7 linked regions of the Homo sapiens genome follow. The protein of the gene in region 3 purifies or fractionates together with the protein of the main gene of each other region. This does not show direct contact. Each region holds a gene or a part of one and is shown on either strand. Other genes may lie near its edges. The genes, in order: SMS, TIPRL, GDA, MVD, AMDHD1, RPS6KA3 and C11orf58.

What was found.
Region 1: the proteins of GDA (region 3) and SMS fractionate together in Homo sapiens (co-fractionation; one large-scale study listed by BioGRID). This does not show direct contact.
Region 2: the proteins of GDA (region 3) and TIPRL fractionate together in Homo sapiens (co-fractionation; one large-scale study listed by BioGRID). This does not show direct contact.
Region 4: the proteins of GDA (region 3) and MVD fractionate together in Homo sapiens (co-fractionation; one large-scale study listed by BioGRID). This does not show direct contact.
Region 5: the proteins of GDA (region 3) and AMDHD1 fractionate together in Homo sapiens (co-fractionation; one large-scale study listed by BioGRID). This does not show direct contact.
Region 6: the proteins of GDA (region 3) and RPS6KA3 fractionate together in Homo sapiens (co-fractionation; one large-scale study listed by BioGRID). This does not show direct contact.
Region 7: the proteins of GDA (region 3) and C11orf58 fractionate together in Homo sapiens (co-fractionation; one large-scale study listed by BioGRID). This does not show direct contact.

The regions. Positions count from the first base shown.
Region 1 is NC_000023.11:21,975,209-21,978,708, forward strand, and holds part of SMS (spermine synthase), read left to right. Parts: intron 1-1,852; coding exon 1,853-2,028; intron 2,029-2,751; coding exon 2,752-2,906; intron 2,907-3,500. UniProt on the Homo sapiens protein: Catalyzes the production of spermine from spermidine and decarboxylated S-adenosylmethionine (dcSAM).
Region 2 is NC_000001.11:168,195,534-168,199,759, reverse strand, and holds part of TIPRL (TIP41-like protein), read right to left. Parts: intron 3,214-4,226; coding exon 3,118-3,213; intron 842-3,117; coding exon 779-841; intron 1-778. UniProt on the Homo sapiens protein: May be a allosteric regulator of serine/threonine-protein phosphatase 2A (PP2A). Isoform 1 inhibits catalytic activity of the PP2A(D) core complex in vitro. The PP2A(C):TIPRL complex does not show phosphatase activity.
Region 3 is NC_000009.12:72,246,500-72,250,901, forward strand, and holds part of GDA (guanine deaminase), read left to right. Parts: intron 1-906; coding exon 907-934; intron 935-1,772; coding exon 1,773-1,843; 3' UTR 1,844-4,250; coding exon of another isoform or gene 4,251-4,339; 3' UTR 4,340-4,402. UniProt on the Homo sapiens protein: Catalyzes the hydrolytic deamination of guanine, producing xanthine and ammonia.
Region 4 is NC_000016.10:88,652,533-88,656,934, forward strand, and holds part of MVD (diphosphomevalonate decarboxylase), read right to left. Parts: intron 3,773-4,402; coding exon 3,573-3,772; intron 3,199-3,572; coding exon 3,124-3,198; intron 2,886-3,123; coding exon 2,667-2,885; intron 2,276-2,666; coding exon 2,160-2,275; intron 877-2,159; coding exon 768-876; intron 74-767; coding exon 1-73. UniProt on the Homo sapiens protein: Catalyzes the ATP dependent decarboxylation of (R)-5-diphosphomevalonate to form isopentenyl diphosphate (IPP).
Region 5 is NC_000012.12:95,949,557-95,953,958, forward strand, and holds part of AMDHD1 (probable imidazolonepropionase), read left to right. Parts: intron 1-3,160; coding exon 3,161-3,267; intron 3,268-4,402.
Region 6 is NC_000023.11:20,176,410-20,180,811, reverse strand, and holds part of RPS6KA3 (ribosomal protein S6 kinase alpha-3), read left to right. Parts: intron 1-3,727; coding exon 3,728-3,816; intron 3,817-4,295; coding exon of another isoform or gene 4,296-4,313; coding exon 4,314-4,378; intron 4,379-4,402. UniProt on the Homo sapiens protein: Serine/threonine-protein kinase that acts downstream of ERK (MAPK1/ERK2 and MAPK3/ERK1) signaling and mediates mitogenic and stress-induced activation of the transcription factors CREB1, ETV1/ER81 and NR4A1/NUR77, regulates translation through RPS6 and EIF4B phosphorylation, and mediates cellular proliferation, survival, and differentiation by modulating mTOR signaling and repressing pro-apoptotic function of BAD and DAPK1.
Region 7 is NC_000011.10:16,741,032-16,745,433, reverse strand, and holds part of C11orf58 (small acidic protein), read right to left. Parts: exon of another isoform or gene 1,767-4,402; intron 834-1,766; coding exon 750-833; intron 1-749.

The sequences.
Region 1 (3,500 bases), on a different chromosome or scaffold from region 3:
TACCTCCTGGTAGCCCGTTATAGGGCTACCAGCGAGATGCCCTTTAATGCTAGGTTGAGCACTTCATCAGGGTAATGGCATTTACATCCTGTTAAGATCCTTCTTTCTTTGCTAGTCTTTAAAAAAACCATAGAGTTACAATGTAGGAAAGAGCTCTTCACCTTAGCCAAGGCACTATTGACACAATTGAGAACAGGCACTGTTTAGTTTCAGTGGGTTTGCCTGTAGTGCAGTAATTGCCGATAGGTGGCTGGCTGTCAAGGAGAGGGTAGTCTTCCTCCCCTGGAAGTGAGTGACTTTGTCGTTCATCCAATGCCATGGGTGGCTCACTCTCACCTCACTCCCCACCATCAGCCAGGGGTGGAAGAGGCTTCCTCCAAGTCCTGTTCGCCTGCTCTCTAGCAGTTGTCCTGATTGGTGCTTCACATTTTACAATTTACAAGAAAAACCCTCTAGAATGCCTCACATTCTGAAAGCTGAATTTGTTCACATGGAAGGTGAAGAAGTGGTTAAATGAAGAGTTGTCAGGATGACATGAATTTATGGGAGTTTGCCTTTTCAATCTCGGTGTTCTTTATAGATGTTAGTATTCCCTCATAGAAAGCCTTGTTAACTTGTAACAGGTTTAGACTGTACTCTTGGAAGCTGGTGAGCAGGGAAGGGAAAGAGACTCATAAGAGTACGTCAGGCCGCATATCCCAGCATTTTACATGTCTACAGCTGTACATCATGGCGTTTTAATGTTGAACACTACTGTGTTTGAGAACACATGACTCACGCAGTTGTGTTATGTATGCAGTGAGCTCTCGTTTTCTTTGTGTTTGGGTTAGACTTGCCAAGCCCCTTTTCCAGGTCTTTTTTTTCCTGTCATTTAGTGTCCTCTGCTGGTACCTTCTAGTACATTCATCCTGTGAAAAATACCGGGTATTTACAAAAGAATGAATGAAAAAATCATCATTTTGCAGCCTCTGTAGTAGTAACTGGTTCAGGCCAGAATCTTCTGCATGCTAAAACCACTGGTAAAGGTTTGTTGGGGGGTGAGGACTTCTACCTAGTTTCAGAGCACCACCCCACAGCCTGCTTAGTAATTTCAGAGGGTGAAAAAGGTACCTTTGCAAATGGAGAGAGCCCATGAATACCACTTTAACCAAGTGATCACAGACTTAGCATCACCAATAATAGGACAGATACACATCTTGTGTTCCCGATGTGATGCCTGTGTAATATATGTCAACCTGATTCTAACCATGAAGAGTGAGAGATTATCAGGTAAACCCACGAGTCATTTTTCAGCAGAATAGCTGGTCTGTACTTGGAGATATCAGTGTCATGAAACATACCAGTAAAAAAAAAATTATACGTTACATGAGGATAAAAAAGAAAAAAAAAACAGGGAAATGCAGTGTATGAGCCTTTATTCAAGAGCAGAACATCTATAAAGGATATAACTGGGGACACTTGAAGATGGACTCTGTACTAGATAACCATATCATACCCATGTGAACTGGTGTAAATGTGGTAATGTCCATGTAGTTATGTAGATAGTCTTAAGAGACAGATGCTGCTGGAGCATTTGAAATATGAAGTGTGCAGTGGCCATCTTCTCCTTCAGCTTTTTGTTAGAGAAAATCTAAAGCATGACAGGATTTTTTAAAAAGTGAACTGTGTACAATAGTTGTCAACATTTGGTGGTGGCCGTGATTATATAAAACTAAAAGCCCAAGCTTTGGATTCGTTTTGTGCTTGTCAAAAGTCGGCAGTCATGTGGCTTTCTTTTGCACACTCTTCATCCTAGCTCCACTTGTAAGGCAGTGTTCTAGTAAGGTACATTTCTGTTTTTCTCTTTTTCCAGATTACCACCCATAGTGCGAGGAGGAGCCATCGACAGATACTGGCCCACCGCCGACGGGCGCCTGGTTGAATATGACATAGATGAAGTGGTATATGACGAAGATTCACCTTATCAAAATATAAAAATTCTACACTCGAAGCAGTTTGGAAATATTCTCATCCTTAGTGGGGATGTTAGTAAGTATTCCATCCCTGCCCCGATCACGTAACAAAGTGGTGATGTGTTGAATGATGGTGTTTTCCTGACAATTACTACTGTCGTGGATTTGTTTGAGTTTGTTTTTGACACTGCTGGTTTTTGAGATGCACATTTATGTCATATTAACCTGTGGATTGTCTGGGCTTTCACATAAACTTTGTCTTGACATTGCTTCCTTAGTGATGAGTATTTGGATTGTATTTCAAAAGAAAATGCATTTGCATATTTAAAAAAAAAAACCTTTTTGTTACAGAACAATTCAAACCTAAGTAGACAAACTAGTGTGATGAACCCACATGTACTTACCATCGAGTGTGAACAATTACCACCTCCTAGCCAGTCTTATTTTACCTAAACCCCAGTCCACTTTGTCCCTCTCATATTATTTTGAAGCAGCTCACAGACATCATATTATTTCATTTGTAAAGATGTAATTGCTTTTAGTTATTCGGTATATTGACACATTTTTAAGGCTGGATTTTCTTCCCACTGACTAATGTCCATTTGTATTAGGTGTCAGATGATCAGGGTTGATGAAAAAGTCCTCAATGGAAAAAAAGCTTGCAAATTGTTCACAGTTTTAAAAAATTGAAAATGAAAAATTTACATTTTGGTCTAGATCCCAGCTCTTCAGTGTGGTGGGGCCAGGTGGTTTGTGTGTTAAGGTAGACTCACCATTTGGATCTGTTTCTCCTCCCTAGATTTGGCAGAGAGTGATTTGGCATATACCCGGGCCATCATGGGCAGTGGCAAAGAAGATTACACTGGCAAAGATGTACTCATTCTGGGAGGTGGAGACGGAGGCATATTGTGTGAAATAGTCAAACTAAAACCAAAGATGGTCACTATGGTAGAGATATCCTTTGTTGTATAAGAGAACAAGTTCAGTGGGCTTCTTTTGTTTCCTTCCTTCAGTGTCTCACAACTCAAATTAATGTTACCACAGACTAGAGGCAAATGTGTTACCTAGACTGCCTTGAACAGACAATTTAGTAACAGTACCCTTTTATGTGGCCATCAACAAAGAAATAATCAGCTGGGCACAGTGGCTCATGCCTGTAATCCTAGCACTTTGGGAGGCCGAGGCGGGTGGATCACCTGAGGTCAGGAGTTCAAGACCAGCCTGATCGACATGGCGAAACCCTACCTCTACTAAAATTACAAAAATTAGCCAGGCATGGTGGCGGGCACCTGTAATCCCAGCTACTCGGGAGGCTGAGACAGGAGAATTGCTTGAACCCTAGGTGGCAGAGGTTGCAGTAAGCCAAGATTGCGCAACTTCACTCCAGCCTGGGTGACAGTAAGACTCTGTCTCAAAAACAAACAAATAATCTACCTAGTTGAGGATTAAAGAGCAAAGGACTTTGATACTGTGTCTGCTGCCTAGCAGTTTCCAAAATGGCTTCTCTAAAGCCATCTCATGAGGAGAAAAGAAGATTAAGTTCCTTTT
Region 2 (4,226 bases), on a different chromosome or scaffold from region 3:
TTTCTTGATACGGAATCATTCAACTTTGTTACTGAATGATTTCATCAAAGATCACAGGGTTATATAATCTATAATGTTCCCACAAATGTCCTAAGAATTTAATACATCTTAATCCAACCCTATGTATCTCCTGCTTTTGTAACTTGAAAACACTAGTCTTCGGTTAGAGCACAGCATGTAGTCTACAATAGAATCTAAGTAGTAACTTTTCTGTTCCAAGTATACTCTATACCCAGACAGAAGTACATACTAAGCGTGAAAAAATAAAATCAAGTTTATAGGAAGGTACCAATTTTTAAGCAACCCATTATAGAATCCTAAGTTCTAAGGAAGGCTTCACAGGTCCCGGGGAGTAAAAAATAAAGAAAAATGATGCCAAAACAAACAAATTATGGTACAGAATCACCACATTTTCGGAAGAGAAAAGGAGACTATGTAGAAAGAAATAAGGCGGCAGGGTGGTAAGTGTAAAGAACATCCATCACCAGCCAGCTATGTGACTCAGAGTAAGTCACACCTCTGGGTTTCAATTTCTCTAGAACAAAATGTGAAAATTAGATTAGATGAGGCTTAAGTACCTAGCAGCTCTAAATGTTCTTGTATTTGAGGTAAGGTCAGAAAAGTTATGCTCCCATAGAATTTATCCTATAGAGCCCCATTAGGTGAATGAATGGGTTTAGGGATGTAAACTTGGGTGGTTGGGGTCAGGGGTATATGCTACTTAAATTAAAATGAAACATTAAAATTAACTTCTAAAAACTGAAATTTAAGTACTTGCCATCAAACTAGAAATTTTGCTTTCTCGTGACGTATATTCTCGTAACATGTAGGTCTTGTCAGCCTGTATTTAAAAATAAACAGTTGCAATAAATTTAATTATACTGATTTACAAAATCCTTTGTATTAAAAACAGACTGCCTACATTTTAGGATAGGTTGTCAAAACAGCATGCAGTCTAAAGAGAACATCTTGTTCTACACTGAGATAACTCCTATTTAACTCAAATTGGATTATTATTTCCAATTTCTATACATTATAATGATGATACACATATGTAAACAGATTTTATAATTACCATGTAAGAGAAACATAGCAAAGATTTTACTTTGAAAGAATATGTATATAAATGAATAATGTATATAATGAATTTGTATAAATGAAATATGCAAGAGATTTTAAAATTACTTCAAGTTTGAAACATCTTTCCCTTAAGCTATCTTATCATTTACCTACGTAATTGTGCTACTTTTATGTTGCAAAACATGCTTTAAAATTTTTATTCTTTCCCATTCCATAAAGCTCTTACCAAATAGCTTACTTAAAATCACCTTTTTTGTACTTCAATTTTTCCCATTTAAGATTTTTGGTTAGGTTTTAGAACAGCAACTTATTATAATTTACTTCTTGAAACACTTTTCAATAAAAGAAAAGCCACAAAATTATATGCCTTTAAGGTTTCACTCTCTTGTATTAATAAAAACAGATTAATAGTCACTGTAGGAAAAAAATCAAATAATATAAAAGTATAAATCATCAGTGATCACAGCTTATAGGTAACACTATCTTTAATACTTAGAAATCTCTACAGAGAATCTTATGTAAGTAGATTCATACTTGCTTTTGAAAGTTCAACACTGAAATGAATATCTTTCAAAATTACTTAAATATCAATCTCTGCAACCAATTTTAATAATTATATATTTTATACCATATGGATATAAACAATTTAATTAATGGCCATTTAATGGGCATTAAGTTCCTACTTTCCTTCCTTTCTGCTATTATAAACAATACTACTGTGAATATTCATGTACGTATAACTCTGAGTAATTGCCCAATTAATATTAGTAGATTATTATATAAAAGAATCTTTTTAGGATAAATTCCTAAAATTCAATATTGTTTAATTAAAACAGTATTTTTAACATTTAGGCCAGGAGCGGTGTGGCTCACGCCTATAATCCCAGCACTTTGGGAGGCCGAGGCAATTGGATCACTTGAGGTCAGGAGTTCAAGACCGGCCTGGCCAACATGGTGAAACCCCATCACTCCATTAAAAACAACAACAACAAAATTGCCAGGTGTGGTGGTGGGCGCCTGTAATCCCAGCTACTAGGGAGGCTGAGACATGAGAATTGCTTGAACTCAGGAAGCAGAGGTTGCAGTGAGCCAAGATCGCGCCACTGCATTCCAGCCTGGGCAACAGAGCAAGACTCCATCCATCTCAAATAAATAAATAAAAATAAAATTTAGATTTCTCTTTCTGGGGAACAAAAATATAGCTTATGTTTAGTACTTTGCCACCACTTTTAAAAGAAAAAAGGTCTATCACTATAACCATGTTATTTCAAGAAAAAATCCCTAAGTGAAGGGTTTAGAAAGCATCAATCCAATCCTATCCTACTAGGTTCAAATTCCAATTCTGCCACCTACTAACTGTATAACTTAGGTATGTTTCTTTTTTTTTTTTTTCTTTGAGACAGGGTCTTGCTCTGTCACTGCAGCCTCAACCTTCACCAGCTCAAGCAATCCTCCCACCTCAGCCTCCCAAGTAGCAGCTAGGACTACAAGTCCGTGCCACCATGCCTGGCTAATTTTTTGTATTTTTAGTAGAGACAGGGTTTCACCATGTTGGCCAGGCTGGTCTCGAACTCCTGATCTCAGGTGATCTACCCACCTCGGCCTCCCAAAGTGCCGGGATTACAGGCGTGAGCTACGGCGCCCGGCCTTGGCCTGATTAATATATTAATGTACTTCCTGTATATTAATGTACATCAGGACATTACATAAACAACATATACTGTAAACAAAGGTAAGAGTTAAAGGACAGTTTTCTTAAACATGGATTAAGTACATACAAAATTGTCTCAAAAGACCCCTCCCCAATTAGGGAGTGTCTTTTAGAAAACATTTTGAGTCACCAGAACCTTTGTAAAAGGAAATGTAATGTTTTGATGATAGCCTGCAGTCAACAGTGAATGTGAAACACTCAGACTTAACAGTTAGAAAGACTGCCATATAATATAGATTGTTTAATTTCAAATTCTCAGATTGACAATTAAACAACACAAACAAGCCCAGTATCAATTAGTATATTCATTAAACAACAATAAATACCTCATGGTAAAGTCTCGTGTCATTCATTCTGATAAGCACCCCATCAATTCTCAAGAAAAACCGCAACAGCAGGAAAAAGCTAGAAGGCATTACTCTCTGGAAAAAAAAAAAAAGGTACATTAATATTTTAATAAAAATTAAACATTTTATTACTTTGCTGAAAGAAAAAATTTGAAAACAAAAAACAAAAAAACCCTGGAATAAGGCTGAATTCACAGTTTATAAAAATCTCTCAACTAGAAGCTCTTTGTCCTAGCTCCAACTAGCCTCAAAACCTTGTGCAAACTATTTAACATCATAGTTTCGGTTTCCTAAAATATTTTTTCTAGGTGAGGAGATATTGAGGTTTAAAAGACTTAAAAACATACCCAAGTAATGTAAAAATTATAATGTTTATTTCAAAAAATGGCAGGTACTGATAGTAAATGTCAACACCAATAAAACCAAAATGAAAGAACAACCTAGTTCTTTGTCACTACTCACCTATTCACTTTACATAAAACAAAGCAACAGACCTTACACAGAATGCTCTAATTCAGTGCAACCTGTAGGCACTATTACATATTGCTAAAGACCTGGTTTATCAGAACACTATAACACATTCTTAACATCTTTCATCTGTGGCACATCTACAAATTCCTCTGCTTTCCAAGTATAACTACTAATGATAGGCAGAATCAGTGGAGAAAGTATGAAGGTGGGTCCTGGTGGCGGGGAGAGAGCGGTTGAATGGAATGTGAGGTATTTGGGTCTTTAAAATGAATATGTTTAGCTGGCATGGTGGCTCACACCTATAATCACAGCAGTTTGGAAGGTTGAGGTGGAAAGATCACTTGAGCCCAGGAGTTCAAGACCAGCCTGGGCAACAGAGTCAGACCCCATCTCTACAAAAAATACAAAAAATTAGCAAAGCACGGTGGCACAAGCCTGTAGTCCTAGCTACGTGGAAGGCTAAGCTGGGAGGATGGCTTGGGCCTGGGAGATAGGCTGCAGTGAGCCATGATTGTAACACTGCACTCCAGCCTGGGCAACAGAGCAAGACCCTGTCCCAAAATTAATTAATTAATTAAAATGAATATGCTTGGCCATTTGCTGAATAAATACCTATT
Region 3 (4,402 bases):
CCCAAGAAACAGGTAAACTTGGATATTTTTATGCTAGGTTTGATGAAGAGTGGAAAGTTGTAGAGAAATATGATAGGACAAAGAGTGTGGTCCAGTGGTAATAAGCTAGAGAGAACTTAGCAAGGCCTGCTTGTTCAGATTCTTCTCTGTGATCCTTTAGCTTCAGAGATCAGGTATAGGGAGGGCACCCCTTACGTGATGGTCTTATGACCTGCATTGGGGTAAGGGGTAAGGGGAGGGTCAGAGTGACCTTCCTGTGTTTGATTTGAGGGTAGCGTGTCCTGACCCCCTCATTATTTTCATATTGCTTATTCTTTTACTCTCTGATTAGAGTAAATTTCTAAGAATAGGGCTCTAGGGAATAGTCCTAGTGATTTTTCTTATATCAGGGGTGTCCAAGGGAGTTCTTAGTTTCTGTTTCAGGTTGTGCCAGTAAAGCCCCCTCCCTCATCCCTCTTTTCTGCTTATCAGTAGAGACAGAAACTAAAAACCATGGCTTCAGGCTGCTAAAAGCCTAAAACAAAACATAACAAAACAGAACAACAACAACAAAATAAGGCAGGTTGGATGAGCTTGTCTTACATCATACCCGTCTTGAAATATTTGAATTATTTTACTAAATTAATTTCTTTAATTTATATAATACCTTTTCTCTGATGACTCAAAATTCACATACCCAGAACTTTCACACAATAGGTAAACTTCTGTTAATTGCCAGTGGGTTATTTTTTGTTCTGGGAGGTTTTTATAAAGCACATAGCCACTTCTTTTTTAATTAATAGAAGTAGATTTTGCCATTGAGAAACAAATTCGTATTTCTGGGCTTTGTCAACCACTATCAGCTGTGAATTTACTTTTCTAAATGCACAAATGAGTCTTTCTTATTACTTTTATTTTCCATTTTAGGCTGTTATCCAGAAGTTCCTCTATCTAGGTAGGTAGATGCATGTCTCTATGCTAAATATTAAATAGAACCTTTCCCTGTCTTTTTCTTGGGTATGGCTCTATGTATTTATCCTACCATATATTAAACTCTGTGGATGATAATTTGCTTTGATTCATTATTTTTTTAACAGTCTGAAGCATCAAGCCCATTGGTGGCACATTATTTAAAGGTTCTATTTGAAATGCACATGACTCCCTCTAGTCATAAATTCTAAGCTGAGGAATGGAAGGCCAAAGGTGAAGAGATCTTCATGTTCAACCCTCTTGTACTCATTCGGTATCTGACATACTGCCCTGCCATGTTTTTGTGACAAATGTATAGTAGAGTCTCACCACACGTGCTGGTGATGTACTCACATTCAATTCCATTCACTGAGAGAGAGAGAAACAGTAATGCAGAATATTCTACACTGCCTCCCATTCTGTTCAGTGAGCCCAGGACTGAGTGAACTCAAGATGGAAAGATGCATGTGTTACTTCTTGTGGAGCTGATTCTGGAGCGTAAAGAGTAGTATTTCTTTCTCAGTGGGGGCAAAATGTAAACCAACCACTTCAGCTGAGAAAGGACAGCTATAGGGGGTTGATTCAACTTTATGTGATTTCTGCCTCTGGTGCAGAATTCAGACCCTAATCATCAAATTAGCTATGGCATTTTCTACTAGTCATATCTTCCTGTTCAGATTATAAACAATCTGAGGGTTGGGGGAAAGCAGCTTTTAGTATTTCCTCTCCTAGAAGTATCTTTAAAAAAAATCTCTCCCAATGGCAAGGAAGATACTTATTGACACAAAAGGATTTTATACATGATTCCTTGATTTTTCTTTCAGGAGATGATCGAAATATTGAAGAGGTTTATGTGGGCGGAAAGCAGGTGGTTCCGTTTTCCAGCTCAGTGTAAGACCCTCGGGCGTCTACAAAGTTCTCCTGGGATTAGCGTGGTTCTGCATCTCCCTTGTGCCCAGGTGGAGTTAGAAAGTCAAAAAATAGTACCTTGTTCTTGGGATGACTATCCCTTTCTGTGTCTAGTTACAGTATTCACTTGACAAATAGTTCGAAGGAAGTTGCACTAATTCTCAACTCTGGTTGAGAGGGTTCATAAATTTCATGAAAATATCTCCCTTTGGAGCTGCTCAGACTTACTTTAAGCTCAAACAGAAGGGAATGCTATTACTGGTGGTGTTCCTACGGTAAGACTTAAGCAAAGCCTTTTTCATATTTGAAAATGTGGAAAGAAAAGATGTTCCTAAAAGGTTAGATATTTTGAGCTAATAATTGCAAAAATTAGAAGACTGAAAATGGACCCATGAGAGTATATTTTTATGAGGGAGCAAAAGTTAGACTGAGAACAAACGTTAGAAAATCACTTCAGATTGTGTTTGAAAATTATATACTGAGCATACTAATTTAAAAAGAGAACTTGTTGAAATTTAAAACGTGTTTCTAGGTTGACCTTGTGTTTTAGAAATTTGCACTTAATGGAATTTGCATTTCAGAGATGTGTTAGTGTTGTGCTTTGCCTTCTTTGGCGATGAATGTCAGAAATTGAATGCCACATGCTTTCATAATATAGTTTTGTGCTTCAAAGTGTTTGACAGAAGTTGGGTATTAAAGATTTAAAGTCTCTTAGGAATATTATTCATGTAACTCCATGGCATAAATAGTTGTATTTTTGTGTACTTTAAAATCAACTTATAACTGTGAGATGTTATTGCTTCCATTTTATTAGAAGAGAAACAAATTCCATGCTTTATGGAATTTATGTAGACTGGAGTCTTCGTGAACTGGGGCAAATGCTGGCATCCAGGAGCCGCCAATACTAACAGGACAGGTTCCATTGCCATGGCCTATTCCACCCAAACAATATGTTGTAGTTTCTGGAAATTCCATACTCAGATATCAGTCTGCTAGAACTTTAAAATGAAGGACAAATCCTGTTAAAGAAATATTGTTAAAAATCTTTAAACCCTGTGTATTGAAAGCACTCTATTTTCTAATTTTATCCAGTTTTCTGTTTAACTCCTTATAATGTTTAGGATATTAAAATTTTAGGATAATGAAGAGTACATAATGTCCTACTTAATATTTATGTTAATAGGACTTAATTCTTACTAGACATCTAGGAACATTACAAAGCAAAGACTATTTTTATGCTTCCATAACCTAGAATTAAAACCAAATTATGACCTTATGATAAATCTTTAAGTATTGGTGTGAATGTTATTTAAATTCTATATTTTTCTTATTTAATTACAAATACTATAAATGAGCAAGGAAAAGGAATAGACTTTCTTAATATATTATAACACTCATTCCTAGAGCTTAGGGGTGACTCTTTAATATTACCTTATAGTAGAAACTTTATGTAATATAGCTAACTCCGTATTTACAGAACAAAAAAACACAGTTCCCCCTCCTGTAGTATAAATTTTATTTTCACATACTTAGCTAATTTAGCAGTAATTGGCCCAGTTTTTTCCCTAATAGAAATACTTTTAGATTTGATTATGTATACATGACACCTAAAGAGGGAACAAAAGTTAGTTTTATTTTTTTAATAAACAACAGAGTTTGTTTTGTGAGATAAGTATCTTAGTAAACCCAATTTCCAGTCTTAGTCTGTATTTCCAATATTTCTAATTCCTGAGCCACGTCAAAGATGCCTTGCCAAATTTCTCCCCATTTCTCTACGGGGCTAGCAAAAATCTTCAGCTTTATCACTCAACCCCTGCCAAAGGAACTTGATTACATGGTGTCTAACCAAATGAGCAGGCTTAGGAATTTAGATGAGATGTGTAAGATTCACTTACAGGCAGTAGCTGCTTCTAGCATTTGCAAGATCCTACACTTTTACCTTCTTTAAGGGTGTACATTTTGATGTTGAACATCAGTTTTCATGTAGACTTAGGACTCATGTGCAGTAAATATAAATAAGTGTAGCATCAGAAGCAGTAGGAATGGCCGTATACAACCATCCTGTTAAACATTTAAATTTAGCTCTGATAGTGTGTTAAGACCTGAATATCTTTCCTAGTAAAAATAGGATGTGTTGAAATATTTATATGTACTTTGATCTCTCCACATCACTTATAACTTATGTGTTTTATTTCTCCAAGTGCGGTGTTCCTGAATGTTATGTATGCTTTTTTTTCTGTACCACAGGCATTATCTATACCTGGGGCCAGATTTTCTGCACTTTGAAATGTTGCCTTTGCCTAATGTAGGTTGACTTTCTGAATTGTGGAGAGGCACTTTTCCAAGCCAATCTTATTTGTCACTTTTTGTTTTAATATCTTGCTCTCTGACAGGAAAGAAACAATTCACTTACCAGCCTCCTCACCCCATCCTCCACCATTTCCTTAATGTTCCATGGTATTTTCAACGGAATACACTTTGAAAGGTAAAAACAATTCAAAAGTATCGATTATCATAAATTCACAAAATATTTTTGCAACCAGAA
Region 4 (4,402 bases), on a different chromosome or scaffold from region 3:
CTGGCTTCGGCAGGCCGTCAGGACCCAGGAGGTGGGCGCAGGGGTCATCCAGGATTTGAGGCCCTGGCCCCACCTGGGGATAGAAATCCATGTCAGGTCACCAGGAATGGCAGCGCCTCATCCTGTGCCCAGCATCTGTAGGGCCGGACACAGGAGGGTAGCGGTGTGCCCCCGCCCTTCCTGTGGGTCCTGGTCAGAAGGTAAAGCGCCTGAGTGGTGACACCCACACGCAGCTCCTGCAGGCACAGCCGCCCCTGCCAGCTGCGAGCCCCCTGCCCTGGGCACTGCTTCTGTCACAGGGGGGACAGAGAACCACAGAGCCTGGGAACAGGCAGCCCCTGAGAGGAAGGTGGCGGCAATGGCTTGGGCGGCCGTGATCACTGGATGCAAGCTTGGCCCTCGGAGCAGGTCAGAGGGCAGGAACTCCGGTCTGCTGGGGTGGTTGGGGTGGGGGGGTCCCAGGGACCCCAGCAGCCCCCACCCCAGGCGCTCCCTATTCAAGGGTCTGATACTCCCCACCTGTCTCCCTGGGAGCCTGTGTCAGACTCACCCTCCCACCCTCAGCGCAGCCCTGCTGCTCTGAGCATCACCAGTGGCCTGTAATGTCCACTTTGAGAGCAAATGAATGGACAAAGGCGTTCTGGCTTCCTGCCTGAGACACGGTAGGGACAGGGAGCCGCGCTTAGCCTTTAAGGGCCCTGGGGGCTGGGCGGGCCCCCCTGGCAGGAAAGGAAACCCCGGGGTACTGGGTGAGCCCCAGGCCTCACCTGAGTGACAATGATGTATTTGACCCCACCGGGGGTCGGCTCCATGGCCAGCGCAGCCTGAAGCTCAGCTGAGAGAGGGGCCGGCCTCACCTGCAGCCCCTTCAGAAACCTGGAAAAGCAGGGCAGGGGCACGGTGAATGCATCCGTTTCTCTAAGCGTCTACAACAGTCTACAACAGGCAAGTCCAGAGATGGGAAGTGCATTCCTGGCCGTCAGGGCTCAGGGAGGGGGAGACGGCAGGTGGCTGCTGTGGGGACAGGTTTCTTTTAGGGGTGATGAAAAAGTTAAGGAGGTGGCTTGAGGTGGTGCTCACATGACCCTGTGAATGTCCTCAACACCGCAGGATTATATGCTCTCGAATGGCTGAGACAGGAAATTTTAGGTTATGTGGTAAACAGCTATGCCCAGGCTGGACCCACATCTGGCCAAGGGTGCTGCCAAGCCCCATGGGGTAACAGCTCAGGGAAGCGCCCAATTCAAGCTGGTGCGTTCGTCACCGTGTTCTGCAGAACAGCGGAAGCCTGCAAGCCCCACCCGGAGCAGCAGCCACGAGCCTGGTGCTTCCCAGGCGGGCAGTCCTGGGGTGTGGGTCTGAGTCCACCCCACAGGGCAGGCCCCTGACCATTAGAAGGTGTTATTGCTCCCACCCGGGACAGACGCACATCCCCACACGCTTCCAGACACCCTTAAATGGGAGGCGCCTCTCACATTGAGAATAAGACACCATGAAAACACGGGAGGGAAGAAATCAACAGCCCCGGGGCGTAAGGAGGCTGGGCCAAGCTGTGCACCGAGGAGGGCGTACATGGGGGCTCTGTGGCACCCCCACAGAGCAGCGCAGGGGAAGAGGCGGTTCAGGGCCAAGCTGTGCACCGAGGAGGGCGTACATGGGGGCTCTGTGGCGCCAAGATGCAGCTGCCGGACCCCACCCAAGAAAAGACACCCAACTGCCGGGGCGGGGTCAACACCCGGCCGCCTTGACTGGCTCTAACTCGCTTCAGTAAGAAGGAAATCAGGGGCTTTGACTCCTTTCCTTCAAAATGTCGGACACTTACGCACACATCTGGGAGTGCAGGCGTGTTTCCTAAGCCACTGTTCTATAGAATAAGAGCCTGCGGGGTCCCGAGCTGCAGGGGACGCTGTCACTCAGGAGGTGGGAGACCCTGGGCGTTGCTCACACACGCGTGAGCGGCCTCTCTTTCTTCCCTGTGGACGTGGGCTGTGGGATGGCTCTATGGGGACACCCTGCCCGTGGCTCCCACACTCGGGGGACTGCTGCCTGCCCTGGGACTCCCTGTCTCAGCGCCACAGCCTTCAGGTGCCTCCGTCTCTTCCGACCAGAGTTCCTGGCACCATCTCCCAAAAAGGAGGAGGGGCGGGGTCCACACTCACGTGTCTCCATTCGAGCCTGGGGGAAAGCCGTGCCACACAGCAGCCACAAACTCAGCCACAGTGTCGTCCAGGGTGAAGATCACGGCATTGGGGCCCGCGTCAAAGGTGTACGCCACCTGGAACCCACAGCAGTCACCCTGGCTATTCACGTGGTGCCTGACCCTTGTCTCCCCAACCCTCTGGTCTGCCAGGCGGCCTTGGGCTCTCCAAGAGCTCAGTCTAGGCCCTCAGGGCCACACTGGAGTGGAGCTGTGACCCCAAGTGCCTGGTACTTGACACGTCTGCCTGTGAACCCAGGAAGAAGGTGGTGGGGCCGTGACCCGGGCAAGTCAAGAAACAAAATGAAACAGAAGAACCCAGATGGTCAGTGAGCTTCGCACACAGCAGGGTGGAGCTTTCAGACACAGATTGCCCTGCACGCGAGCCCCGGGGCCGTCTCCACGGCAGCACAAGCCTAGACACGCGCTACAGCGCGAGCGCAGCCTCTGCCCTCCCGGCCCGCGTCACCTTGGTGTCCCCGTGGTGGGCGTTGAAGCGGTGCACCAGGTGGATGATGCGCCAGGAGATGGCATTGAGGTAAGAGATGGGCGGGAAGGTGTCGAGGCAGGTGGCGTGGAACTGGTTGCTGTCCTTCATGGTCAGCTGGGCGAAGCTGGGGAAGTCTCGCTCCCGGATGCAGCGGGCCATCTCCGCCATGCGCGCGGGCACCACGGACTCGGCCCGGAACTGCAAGGCACAGGGTGTTTCCCATGGAGCCGCTGGGGGTCTCGACAGCAGAGGGTTCGAGGAGAGACTCCGGGGTTGGAGGCCCGGCTCGAGCCCCATCTCTGCATTTGGCTCCTGCACGTGGTCTTGGCGGGGCTGCCGCAGGTGTGAGAACACTCGGGCCCAGACAGAGGCTGAGGGCAGAGCCGGGCACAAGCGTGACTCCCAGGGCCCCGGGACCACCCGCTCCTGGCCTTACCCGAAGCAGGGGGCTGGTCTCCACACTGGCCCGCATGCCCACGGTACTGCCTGTCAGCTTCTTCTCAGCGCTCACCTGCACGAGGGAGAGACAGCCTGGGCCACACCCTGCAGGGGGCCAGCCCCAAGGACCTCAGCCTCAAACACTCGGCCCTCCCTCAGCCAATGCAGGCAGCGGGGGTGGGAGTCAGTGCCACCTGCCTGACCACAGAGGCCTCCCGGCCACAGCAGGGGTGACGCAGGGGCAACTTCCAGATCCCAGCGGGTGGTGGCGCCCGCCGCATGGGAGCGGTTCCTGAGCACTCAACCACGCTTCTGTTCCTTCAGCCCCCGCTGACCCCAGGAGCCAAGCAAAGCCTGGATGGACGCCTTCGCTCCTGCTCCCGGCAGCAGCCCTGACTAGGGACAGAGGCCACCGGGCTGCTGCTCCACCCGCCCCACCCCACTCACCACAAGGATGAGCACGCGGAGTTCAGGCCAGTGTGACTCGGGGGCCACTTGCCGAGCGATGCTGTCCTTCCCGTCGGCCTGCTCTCCCATCTGCCACTCCACAAAGCCCCCATACAGGCTCCGGCAGGCGCTGCCTGAGCCCCGGCGAGCCACTTCTGAGAGGTCACTCTCCACGCCGTAGACACGGGCCAGGGTGTAGGCTGCAGGCATGCGGATTCAGGGAGGGTCCTCAGAGCTGCCTGCGCTGTGCTCCCTGACAGCTCACCGCCCCAGGAACGTCCCACACCCCACGGCAAATGGGGATTTCCAGATGACAGGGCTTCTGGGCCATCAGCCTTTGAGGCCAGCATTCACCGGCCCAGCCGTCTGTCCCCCACCTCCGCTAGTTCCACTCTCGGACACTCTCTGTTCACGGCCTGCAGAGCTTGCGGCCCGCGACAAGGGCAACAAAAGGTACCTGCGGCAGAGCAGGAAGCCCCATGGAAGGCGGGAGAAAGGCCCCCGAGGACACCCAAGCTGGGCTTTGAGGGTGGGAAGGAATTTTAAGGCTGTGTGGGGCAGGGACCGATGCCAGGACAGAGCTGGACTCCACAAGACGCGCCCCCTGCCCACCCAGCACGGGAGCCACCTTCTCCCCTCCTCCCACAGGGCTCCAGCAGGGCAACCCCACCTCCAGGTCTGGTCACCCACCCTGGTCACCGAGGGTGGTTCAGGGAAGGCGCAGGAGCCCAGGTGGGCCAGGAAGCGTCACCCCTGGAGTTGAGGGGTGAAGATGGTGTGAGACCACCACCGGGGGGACAGGCTCTGACAGTGGGTGGGAAGCTGCCAGC
Region 5 (4,402 bases), on a different chromosome or scaffold from region 3:
AATACAGATGAACAAAAAGGAAAAAGTCACTCAAACCCCATCATTAGGTGAACTAATACCAACATTTAGTGCTTCTGCTTTCAGATGTTTTCCTATGCAAATAGAATCACATAAAAATGCATGCTTTAGAAAAGGAAGCTATGCATATTGTTTTGTATTCGGGTTTTTTCACTTAGTCATAAATAGTGAAAATCTCACCATAGCAGTAATATGTATCTTTGTAATTTTAATGACTACCTTAAAAAAACACTTTTGGGGGAATGCTTTTTGTTGGTTTCCTTCAATAACTGCCCTCATTATGTCCTCAACAAAGGAACATAAGCCTTTGTTCAAACATAGGTACATCCACAGATGAATGAGAGAACCACACTGTTGAAAGGTAGATAAGCATGGGATTAGTGGGGTCAGGAAGAGGACCCAGTGCCCTCAAAATTCACCTCCTGCACAGACGGAGAATGTTAGAGATTTATTTCTTAGGTTTGACTTTGTTAAAACAACCTCTCTTAAAGCAGTGTCAGTCATTAACTCTTTGCATAAGAGCATTCTCTTTGTTCTTTCCCATTCAAGGGTCAATTTCTAATCCTGCCGGTCCTTTCCACCACCAGATTCACTGCACACTGGGTAGATTATCTAACTGGGCCAGATAAAAGCTGTTAGTGATGAAGAATTGTCTTAATCAGGATACTAAATTCTATTTCAAGACTTAATTTCTTATTCCACCCTAAGTTTATCCTCCCCAAATCTCCCACAATCATTATTTCTTTTCCTATCATAACATCTTCTCTTTCCATCCAGTTTCTTCTGCTCTTCCACTCTTACATTTTGTTAGGTTACCCCAACCACTTCTGTCCCAGTTCGGAATCCCTTATCCTAATTGCTTTTCACAACACATTCCAGCTCTCAGGTTTATAGCCCTCAATCTCCATGTTGGAAATACGAATTTGTTGTAAGTGACCAAGACCTAAATTAATAGTGGCTGAAACAAGATGGAAGTATATTTCTCTCCTATGTGAAAATCCAGACATACGAATGCAGGGCTAGTTGATTGCAATACTCCATGGGGTCCTTAGGAGCCAGGCCCCTGCTGCCTTGCTCTCCCATGCATGGCCCACTTTCTTACACTCACTCCATGACCCAAGATGGCCACCCCATCTCTAGTTGTGGTGTCTGCATTCCAGCCAGTAAGAATAGGAAGAGAAGACAATCTTACCGGCTAGACCTTAGTCTCATAGCCACACCTGGCTAGTGGGAGGTGGGGAAATGTAGTCTGTATTTTGGGTCATCATGTGTCCAGCTAAAATTTAGGGCTCTACTAGTGTAAAAAAGGGAACATTGATCTTGGGGAACAAATGGCAATTGTCTGCTACATATATTTGACGTTTAAAGTTTTTTTAATTGTAAATTTTCATGGGTACATATATATGGGGTACATGAGTTATTTTAAACAGTCGTACAATGTGTAATAATTATATCAGGGTAAATGGGGTTTCCATCATCTCAAGCATTCATCATTTCCTGGTGTTACAAACATTCCAATCGTACTCCCTCAGTTATTCTAAAATGTGCAACATATTATTGCTGATTGTAGTCACCCTGTTGTGATATCAAATACTGGGTCTTATTCACTGTATCTAACCATATTTTTCTAGCCATTAACAATCCCCATTTTTCTCCTCTCCCCTTCTATTCTTCCCAGCCTCTGGTAACCATCATTTTACTCTCTATCTCCATGAGCTCAATTGTTTTCATTTTTAGCTCCCACAAATGAATGAGAATATGCCAAGTTTGTCTTTCTGTGCCTGGCTTATTTCACTTAACATAATGTCCTCCAGTTCTATCCATGTTGTTGCAATTGACAGAATCTCACTCTTTTTTATGGCTGAATAGTACTCCATTGTGTGTATGTATTACATTTTCTTTATCCATTCATTTGTGGGTGGGCACTTAGTGTACTTCCAAATCTTGGCTATTGTGAATAGTGCTGCAATTAACATGGGATGCAGACATCTCTTTAATATACTGACTTCCTTTCTTTTGCATATAGATCTACCAGTGGGATTGCTGGATCATATGGTAGCTCTATTTTTAGTTTTTGAGGAACTTTCATACTCTCCATAGTGGCTGTACTGATTTACATTTCTAACAGTGTACAAGGGTTCCTCTTTCTCCACATTCTTGCCAGCATTTTTTATTGCCTGTCTTTTGGATAAAAGCCATTTTAACTGGGGTAAGATGATCTCTCATTGTGGTTTTGTTTGCATTTCTCTGAAGATCATTGATGTTGAGCACCTTTTCATATACCTGTTTGCCATTTGTATCTCTTCTTTTGAAAAATGTCTATTCAGATCTTTTGTCCATTTCTTAATCAGATTATTAGGTTTTTTCCTATTGAGCTGTTTGAGCTCCTTATATATTCTGGTTTTTAATCCCTTGTCAATTAGATAGTGTGCAAATTATTTTCTCCCATTCTGTGGGTTGTTTCTTCACATTGTTGATTATTTTCTTTGCTGTACAGAAGGCTTTTACCTTGAAGTGATCCCATTTGTCCATTTTTGGCTTGGTTGCCTGTTCTTGTGGGGTATCCCTCAAGAAATTGTTGCCTGAACCAATGTCCTAGAGAGTTTTCCCAAGGTCTTCTTTGAGTAGTTTCATAGTTTAAGTTCTTAGATTTCAGTCTTTAACCCATTTAGATTTGATTTCATTCTTTTGCATATGGATAGCCAGTTTCCCTAGCACCATTTATTGAAGAGACTGTCTTTTCCCCAATGTACGTTCTTGGCATCTTTGCTGAAAATGAGTTCACTGTAGATGTATGGACTTATTTCTGGGTTCACTATTCTGTTCCACTGGTCTATGTGTCTGTTTTTTATGCCAGTACCATGCTCTTTTGGTTACTATAGTTCTGTAGTATAATTTGAAGTCAGGTAATGTGATTCCTCCAGTTTTGTTCATTTTGCTGAGGAGGCTTTGGCTAATCTGGGTCTTTTATGGTTGCCTCGAATGTGGCTAGAGACGCTTTTCCAGACTCAGGTTCAAGATAGAAGCACAGTAAATGTTGACTAATTAACACCAAAGAATCTGAAAACATATTTTAAGTCACTCATCAGATTTCTCACAAGATTTCCCCAAATTTAATAACTATTTCTTGATTTTTCTTCAGAGATGGATTTATAAAAGCTATTGGTCCTGCTGATGTTATTCAAAGACAGTTTTCTGGAGAAACTTTTGAAGAAATAATTGACTGCTCTGGGAAATGTATTCTACCAGGTATTTACCTCTTTTTCAGTAAAGGTCTACAAGTAGCTTTAACAGTTGCTCCTGAAATGTAAAGAGGAAGAGTAACAGCTTATTTTAAAGTCTCAAAATAATATTTAAAAAAAATCATCGTTCCATGTATTGAATTTCTATTATTGAATGTATAGCTGCTTTCAAACATGGTTTCACCTTGAATCCTTATAACTGCCCTGTGTGGGAGGTATCATTATCTATACTTTACAGATTAGAAAATTGAAGCTAAGGGTGAAATATGTTACCCAAGGTTCCTAAACAGGAAACAGACAACCTAGGAATCAAGCCCATTCATTCGACTCCACTTCTTCCCACTCACATGCTGAATAGAAACCAGCTGTGTTGTGTTTAGGTTCAAAAACAGTCAAAAGAACTTTATTAATCCATGGCATAGGAGAGGCTAACAAGGCAGCTGCTGTCTCTAATACTAGAAATACTCTAAATTTGTATAGGATGTGAAACAAAGGATCCAGCTCTGGGCAGAAAAAGAAAAACAAAAATCCTAGAGCTTTCACTGCAGTTCACTTGTATCTTTGATGATTGACAACAGAATCAGTTTATTAACCATCATCTCCTACATTATGTTGTATGGCTTCATATAATCATCCAAAACAAGTTTCACAAACTTTCAGTTCTACACAAACAAAAGGGCTTCATATTTATATTTTTTTATATAAAATTTTTATACTTTTAAATATTTATTGTACACATCTGACAGAGCTTCTAACTGATGGGTTTTCATTTGTTTGTTTATTTTGAGACAGTCTCACTGTGTCACCAAGGCTGGAGGGCAGTGGTGTGATCTTGGCTCACTGCAACCTCCACCTCCCAGGTTCAAGCAATTCTTTTGCCTCAGTCTCCTAAGTAGCTGGATTACAGGCATGCACCATCATGCCTGGCTAATTTTTGTATTTTTAGTAGCAACAGGGTTTCACCATGTTGGTCAGGCTGGTCTCAAACTCCTGATCTCAAGCGATCTGCTGATCTCGGTCTCCCAAAGTGCTGGTATTATAGGCATGAGCCACCACGCCCGGCCTTCCTTATGATTCTTGAGAGTCAGGAGACAAAGTCAGGGTGAAATGTTATGAAAAAGAGGAATATAGCAGAAAGCAAT
Region 6 (4,402 bases), on a different chromosome or scaffold from region 3:
AAAAGCATAAAGTTTATTTTATTCTTTGCTATGGTAAGGCTAGAGTCTCCCCAAATATAGTAGACCACTAATCTTATATAGGGTTTTGAGGAAGGGTGGAGCTCAAGAAGTGGCAGAGTTTCATGTCTATAAGTGGGTTGACATTATCTGTAAGAATGTGATTATTTGGGTGGGACTGTTGTTGATCAGTGGGCATTCAGGTGTGTTTATTGGAGTGAGTCCATTCCTGTTTGGCTAATTTTCAGAGACAAAGAGCAGTTACTCATCTTTGCAGGTGTTCACCAGGCAAGTTGTCATTGATCAATTCAATGGATTTTAAACCAACTGAAAGGATTTAAAACCAGTTCTGGTGGTTCTCTTGTTACCATGGTTACATAACAATTAGTCTTTTCCTAGGAGTATGGAAATTTTTTTTTATTCCCTTAGTGTTATTAGCTTGATCCTCTATTCTGTTTTTGGTTAAACTGTTTTAGCAAGATTATTTCACAGCTAATACCGTGTGGTCCCTATTACATCAGGAGGCTTACAATACCTGGTTGCCCCCACTTTAAGTGATGGGCTCCAGTGGTTGCAGCTGATTCCTCCGTTGTAAAGTTCCCTGGCATGCTTTTAACTAATGGTTCTATCCATTAATAATCATTACTTGAAACAGTTATTTTATAAGGAATTCAAAAGTGATGAATTGCTTTTCTTTTAAAAAAAAAAAAAAAAGTTTAAATTTTGGAGATGAGGTCTTGCTCTGTTGCCCAGACTCGAATGCAGTGGCATGATTACAGCTCACTGCAACATCAAACTCCTGGGCTCAAACGATCCTCCTGCCTCAGCATCTGGAGTAGCTAGGACTACAGGTGCACCACCATGCCCAGCCAAGTTCTTTAATCTTTTGTACAGATGGTATCTTGCTATGTTGCCAGGCAGGTCTCAAACTCCTGGGCTCAAGTGATCCTCCCACCTCCGCCTCCCAAAGTGTTGGGATTACAGGCATGAGCCACTATGCACCAGCCATGATTTTCTATTATTATTATTATTCCTTCCTCATTTATTAGCTGGTATTTTCTCAACAAACTTTCCCTCATCAACTATGATGATTTAATTACTTGAAATAACGCTCATCCAAGAAAAAGAGAATAAATACTTAATTCTTTTCTTAAATTGTTTCTAATGTCAGAGCCCTAGTTACTTCCTAGTGGGGGTAGTATCCAGTGAGTCGAGTTTTTGTATTTTGACTTTGCTTTTTCTTACTTTACATAATAAACTCATGGGATTTAATAATCAGTGTGATTCAGCCAATTGCAGTCATTATTTTTAATGCCCTAATTGTTCTTTTTCTGACTACCTTTTAAATGGTCTTATCCCCCAGGATCCGTCTATGATATGCTTTTCTTCCCCCTCTGCACTCTTTCCTGACTGACTTCAGTCTTTCCTATAACTACCCTCCACATTTTAATTACTCTCAAATCACTCTTTCTTACATGAATTTACCAGGCATTAGACCTGTGTTTCTATTTACTCACCTGCCTGGCCCTCCCAAAACATATTACATGCATGACTTCACATCTTTGAACTAAATGTATCTTTATTTGCTGTTCTTTTCTTATACTCCCAGTTATCAGCATTTTCATGCACCCTCTTCCAAGCCAGAAACCAGGAAATCATTTTTTATTCCTTCTCTCTTTTGCATAATTAGGTATTCTCCAAATTCGATCTCAGAATTATTTCACTGTTCCAGCCTTTCCTCTGAATTAAACTGCTTAAAGTATTCAGAAAACAGTGACCTCTTACCCATACTATCTGACCACATTCCTAAGTTGATTGCCTACCACTTATGACCTCTTCCCACTCCAAATTGTTCTCTATTACCCTTGGAGTTACCTTCTTGAAAATAAGTCTAGTCATGTTAGTCCAGTTTCAGGACCTCTGCTGCATCCTTGTTACCTAATACAATAGTGTTTCCCCAGATTTGTCCAAGAGAATATTAATTCTACAAGATATTAATAGGTATTCTTTGAAAAAGAGGTGCTGGAAATAAATACTTAGAAAATACTGATTTCACCCATAATCCCAGCACTTTGAGAGGCTGAAGTGGGAGGATCACTTGAGGCTAGGAGTTCAAAACCAGCCTAGTCAACATGGCAAAACTCCATCTCTACAAAAAAAAAAAAAAAAAAAAAAAAAGCCAGGTGTGGTAGCACACACCTGTAATCCCAACTACTTGGGAGGCTGAGACACGAGAATCCCTTGAACCCAGAAGGCAGAGATTGCAGTGAGCCGAGATTGTGCCACTGCAGTCCAGCCTGGATACTCTGTCTTAAAAAAAAAAAAAAAAAAAACTGATTTGTTTGCTCTAGATTTCTCAGCCTTTTTATATGCAGTGTATTTTAATTCTGTGTGTCTAATAGGGGGATATAATAAATAGCATTCTACAAGCTCATTGGGTCATGAATTTTTTTATTGTTGCTAACTATCTAGAGGGATTAATGTTATTCAGTAAAATTTGGGGAAACACTAGCCAAATGAATAAATTGTTAGCCTTTAGATTGCATTGAAGACCTTTCATAATCTCCCATGTTAAATTAAATATCCCCTACTGTTCCCTTGTCACTCTTTGCATATGTTCTTCTGCATTTGTCTCTTAATGTACTAGCATTATCTGTATCCATCTTCACCATGGACCATGAGTTTCATGGGCTCTCTTTATCTCTGTATCCTCAGCACTAAACAGTGTCTGGCATGTAATAGCTCAATAACAACCCACTGAATAATAAATGGATCTGTTTCTGAAATAGGAATTTTCCCCAGCTCTATTATTATTGTCATACTTACAGGATCATTGGTTTCTTTAATTTGTAGGTTTGGAAAAAGAATTAAAATTAGAGCTGAAACAGACCTTCAAGTTCATCTAGGCCAGCAGTTTTTAGACTGTGTATCTTCAATATTTCACAATCCTCTTTCCCACAGTTCCCCTTCCCTTCAGGGGCTGTTAAAGGGAATAGAAAGGAAAAAGTGGCATATGAAACACATGTTCTCTTAGCAGCTTTAAATGTTAGGTTTCTTAAATTCCCTTTGAGGAGGAGTTCCGAGGCTATACTTTGGGAGCTATTGGTCTAGAGACCAATCCCTTTGCTTATGAAGAAATGATAACAGGCCCAGAATAATTGGCTTTCCCACTGTCACAAAGTTCTTAGTAACAGAGCCAGAACTAGGATTCAAATGATCTTACTTTCACAGTGCTCTTTGCAAAATTTTGAAAAATGAAAAAGCTTATTAGATTATGAACTAAAATTCAGTTATGTGTTCACATGAAAACCTGTACATAAATGTTCACTGTAGCTTTATTCATATTAGCCCCAAACTGGGCACAACCCAAATGTCCTTCAACAGATAATGGATAAATAAACTGTGACATATTCATACAGAAGCCATACATGTAATAAAATGGCATAGAACTAAACACACACACAAATAAGTGCAAATAAAACCAGTGCCATGTGAATGAGATCATTGGATTGTCTCCATGTCAATATCCTGGATGTGATATTGTACTGTAGTTTTGTAAGATGTTACCATTGGGGGAAACTGGGTAAAGGGCACAGGGGATCTCTCTGTATTATTTCTTACAACTGAGTGTGAATCTACAAGTATCTCAAAAAGTTTAATTTAAGAATTTTTAAAAATAAAAATACAGATGCCTCCAAAAAATAAAATATTATGTGGATTTATTATTTAGAGCCAAACTTGGAATGCCACAGTTTTTGAGTCCTGAAGCGCAGAGTCTTTTACGAATGCTTTTCAAGCGAAATCCTGCAAACAGATTAGGTAAAAATTTTAACTAATTTGTTTATGTTGTATGTTTGTTGGTGTTTGTTTTTAGCGGGGAGTAGATATTTGTTTTGTGGTGGAATTATTAACTATTTAGACAAGGCTAGGCCTGGTGGCTCACGCCTGTAATCCCAGCACTTTGGGAGACCAAGGCGGGAGAATTACTTGAGTCCAGGAGTTCAAGACCAGCCTGGGAAAAATGGCAAAACCTCATCTTTACAAAAAATACAAAAATTAGCCAGGCATGGTGGTGCGTGCCTGTAGTCCCAGCTACTCAGGAAGTTGAGGTAGGAGGATCACTTGAGCCTGAGAGGTTGAGGCTGCAGTGAACTGAGATCACACCACTGCGCTCCAGCCTGGGTGACAGAGCAAGCCCTTGTCTCAAAATTAATTAATTAATTAATTAATTAATTAGACAAGTATTGAAAACAAAGGCTGAGCAATATGTATATTTCTCCTTGAAATAAAATTATCAGTGAATCCATTTTTGATAGGTGCAGGACCAGATGGAGTTGAAGAAATTAAAAGACATTCATTTTTCTCAACGATAGACTGGAATGTAAGTATAGAATGAAAACTTGCT
Region 7 (4,402 bases), on a different chromosome or scaffold from region 3:
TGTGTTAACTGATAATTATGTTATCAGTAAGACTTCCAGTCAACAGTAGGCTATTAGTAGTTAAGTTGTTGGGGAGTCAAAAGTTATATGCAAACTTCTGACTGCCTGCAGAACCAGCACCCCTAACCCCCACATTGCTCAAGGGTCAACTGTACCTTCTATTAACGTTAACCAAACTGACAGGCATTTCAAAGTATCTTGAACATTTTTAAAATTAAGGTTTTCTTTCCCCCTGGTGTTCTACACATTCAGAGAAACTTCTCTATCTAGTAACAAACTATAGAAATAATCTCTGAAAGTGTAGTCTTAAAATTAAGTTTTTGATAAAGGATATTCCTCTGGTTACTACTTCAAGGGCTGGAGGGAGCTATAAAATATGACAGCCTTTTCACTTTGGCCAGAGGTTCCCACAAGATAACCTACCCAGAAGAAATATATTCTATCAAACCACTGGGCCAACATATGGCAAATCATAAACTTTGACATCTCTTTTCTCCTATACAGCCTCCTTGAACCAAATTTTTCTCTGTACAGTCTTCAAACTATACGGACAGAGAATCCTAGAAGTGGCTCAAAAATAATATAAATTTTATGTGCTTGGTTAGGCCACATGTATTTCCCAAAGCCAAAAGAAATCACACAGAACAGGAAAATGGAATCCAAGTATATTCAGTCCTTCTTACTTAGCATACATAAAAATGGCAATATTTTCACAGAAAAGGTAAAAATGCACACCATCTGATGCTTACCTTTCCTGCACCCATAAGTCTCAAGAACTTTTGTTTTCTCTCTTCATTACCCAAGTCTGCTGCCTCCCAATTGCTAGATCCCAGCTAGAAAAAAAATTGGTTGATTAAATTTTTTTTGCATAAAAATAAGTATTACGAAATCTAAAGTCTACCTGTAACTCTCAAGTTTTTTTCCCCTGTCAGTTGTAACTATAAACAGCGTTCATTTTTCTTGCTTAGGAAGTTAAGCATATTCATCACATTCAAATTTACTCCTTTTCTATTACCTCACAGCAGAATCCTTTAGTTCTCCTACAGCCAGAGCTGAGTCTCAAAAGTTTGCCTCTATCAGCGTCACCTAGAGGGCTTGTTAAAACAGACTGCAGGGCTACAGCCCCAGAGATTCAGCGGGTCTGGGGTGGAGCTCTAGGATTTGAATTTCAACAAATTCTTAAATGATTGCTGATGCTATTTATCTGGGGACCACACTTTGAGACCCACTGCCTCGCAGGGTAGGGTCCTAGAGCACCTAGTACTCTGAACTTAGATGGCAGCCACAGTTGTTAGTTGAAGTTAAAAATTCTGCCTTTATCAGTGAGCTAACTTTTAAGAGAGAAAATTTTAACTTTTCAGTTGCCTTTTTTTTTTTTTTTTTAGCAGTTCTAGTTACTTGTTAGGATTGAGATGTCATTACTTTTATTCTTTCTTAAAAGTCTTCCAAAGAACAAAGAGAAAACTTATTTTTTAAAAGAACAGACTAAAACTCATGCTATCTTGCAATTATCAAATGAGTCCACTGAACTCTTATAAATCTAAGAAATATGATGGAATCCTAGTGAGCGTATTTTTTCCCTACATTTTGAAACAAATGTAAAAACTGTTGTTTTTTAATAGTTTTTAATAGTTCATTATTTATAATTCATTATTTATAATTCATTATTCTCAACTATGCTAAAAATAACTAAATAGTTTTTAAGATATTAGTTTTCTCATTGTATTGTCCAAAGTATTTCATCATCATCTTTCAAGACATCATACCTGTTGTCTACTTTTAGCTTTCACTGAACACCGATGGGAATTCACAATTTTTCATTTTCCATTCATAATGGCAAAGAGAAAAAACTGACAGAAGGCATTAATCATTATTAGACGAAGAAGGTGAATGCAAAATGAAAGGCAGTCGTATTCTAGACTAATCATGATAAAATTAACTGCAAAAATCTCAGACTATGAGTTTTTGGATGAGGAAATATTAGAAGGCTTTTCTCCCACCCAAGAATTGACAAGAAAAAGAAAAAAAAGACAAACAAGAAATGTACTCTCACTGGGAGAGCCATCAGCAGGAAGGACTTCATCTTGCAATATTTCACAGTAAGAGCCAGGATCATCCCATTTTCTAAAAGGAGGTGTGAGTGTTTTATCTCATCTTTTACAATGTTTATGCATCAAAATTTACTTGATTTGGTTGCAAATGGACAAAGGGTGAAGGCAGATGTGTACACAAGGTGACTGGAAGGAAAATGAAATAAAAATATTCACCGAATTTATCATTCTAATTAAGTTTATAATCTAAAAATAAAAATGTTTTGCAATTATGGAGCAAGGATGACAATTACAAAATTGTAAGCAATAGGTTTCAAAAATTCCTCAAGTATTGTATTTTGATGATGCAAATCCGAGACAGGTTTGAACTTCAAGGGTCCCTTATAAGTGGATTTTTTTCAACCAAATGCAGATCCATCCCAAGTATATGGAAGGCTGATTTTTCCTATTCTCAGGTTCCACAGGGCTGGCTGCAGAACTTGAGTATGCAAGATTTGCCAAAGAGGTGGGTGGGTCCTGGAACCAATCCCCCACATTTAGCATACTGAAGGATGACTATATGTACATCAAAATCAGGAAAACAAAGAATATAAATTTCGGTTTGCTATTGTTAAATTCACATTAAAATTCCTAATAAAGTTGTTTTGCACTATCTCCCATTATTATTTCTAAAAATTATTTGTAAAAGACTAAAAGAATATTTAAAAAAACCACTATTTCCCCTGGGCATATGAGAGTTAAAGCATTTGTACCAACCTGGACCCATTTGCACTTCTAAATTCTCATTAGTGGAAGGGCTTATATGCTCTCATAATTTTGGTTCCCTAAGTTCCAAATCTCTACTTTTTTCCATGTGACCCCCCTCATATATTTTTATGGGCCATTTAGTTCTTAACTATTTCTGGCTCAATATAGTTAAAGTAATGGTGAAGCTTCAGTTCTGACAATCACTAAATCACTTGCTCTGTAAGCCAGGATCTGACATTTAACTTAATTTTAACTCCTTATCTATAAAGAGATGCCTTTTTAAAAGACTGTCTTAAGACACTGAGGCACAGAGAGGCTAAGTGACTTCCTTTGATCCTCTGACCATCCTGTGTTTTTTCCACATCATACTGTCCATGATCAAATGAGACAGATGAAAGTGGTCTATGAACTAGTTATAAAAATGTATAGAAGTTAAAAAATTGTGTAAAAACCAACTTTCTTGATTCTGCTTCTATTAAAAAACATTTTCAGTGTTTATATAAATAACTGTCATCTACAACTTCTAATCCCAATGTTTTAAGGAAATAACATTAAGTCCTGCCAGTTCTTCTTTTCAAAGACCTTAAAGCAGCACTCCAGGACCAGACTGGCATCAGGGACCAGTTTCGTGGAAGACAATTTTTCCACTGAGAGGGAGGATGTGATGGTTTCAGGATGATTCAAGTGCATTACATTTATTGGGCACTTTATTTCTATTATTACTACACTGTAATCTATAATGAAATAATTATACAACTCACCATAATGTAGACTCAATGGAAGCTTTGAGCTTGTTTTCCTAAAACTAGACAGTCCCATCTGGGGGGTAATGGGAGACAATGACAGATCATCTGGCATTAGATTCTCATAAGGAGTGTGCAACCTAGATCACTCGCATGTGCAGTTCACACCAGGGTTCACGCTCTTATAAGAATCAAATGCCAACAGGAGGCAGAGCTCAGGTGGTAATGCAAGCCAAGGGGAGTGGCTGTAAATACAGATGAAGCTTTGCTGGCTGGCCCACAGCTCACGTCCTGCTGTGCAGCCTGGTTCTGTGGCCCAGGGGTTGGAGAGCCCTGCCTTAAAGTACAACAGTGAGTACTTGCCCAAATGCTGCATTCTGAAAAGCACGTGGGTGCACTATACATTTTAAGAGAGTTCCTTAGCAGTTACTAAAATTTACCTCCCCACTCTTCCCACTTCCTATAAGATAGCTTTCATTTCTCCACTCCAAGCCAATGAAACGACTTTTAAGTTGTTTTCATCCTTAATACCCTTTACTACAGAACTGCAATCAATTTACCTCCTCAATACATAACCTGGTGACTCTTAGAATTTACTCCTACATTGTTAGCGTTTTTCTAGAGTTGTATTGTGATTTAGTATCTACTTTTAATAGTAAAAAAATGTTTTGTTACCTCAATTAGATGTGAGGTCAATGGGCATAAGAAAACTTCAATGATCTCTCACATACCGTGGATGCTCATTAGAAACTGTTTCCCAACTATATATTATAACTAGATTTTTTTTTTTTTTTTTTTAAACAGAGTCTCGCTCTGTCGCCCAGGCTGGAGTGCAGTGGCGCCATCTTGGCTCACTGCAAG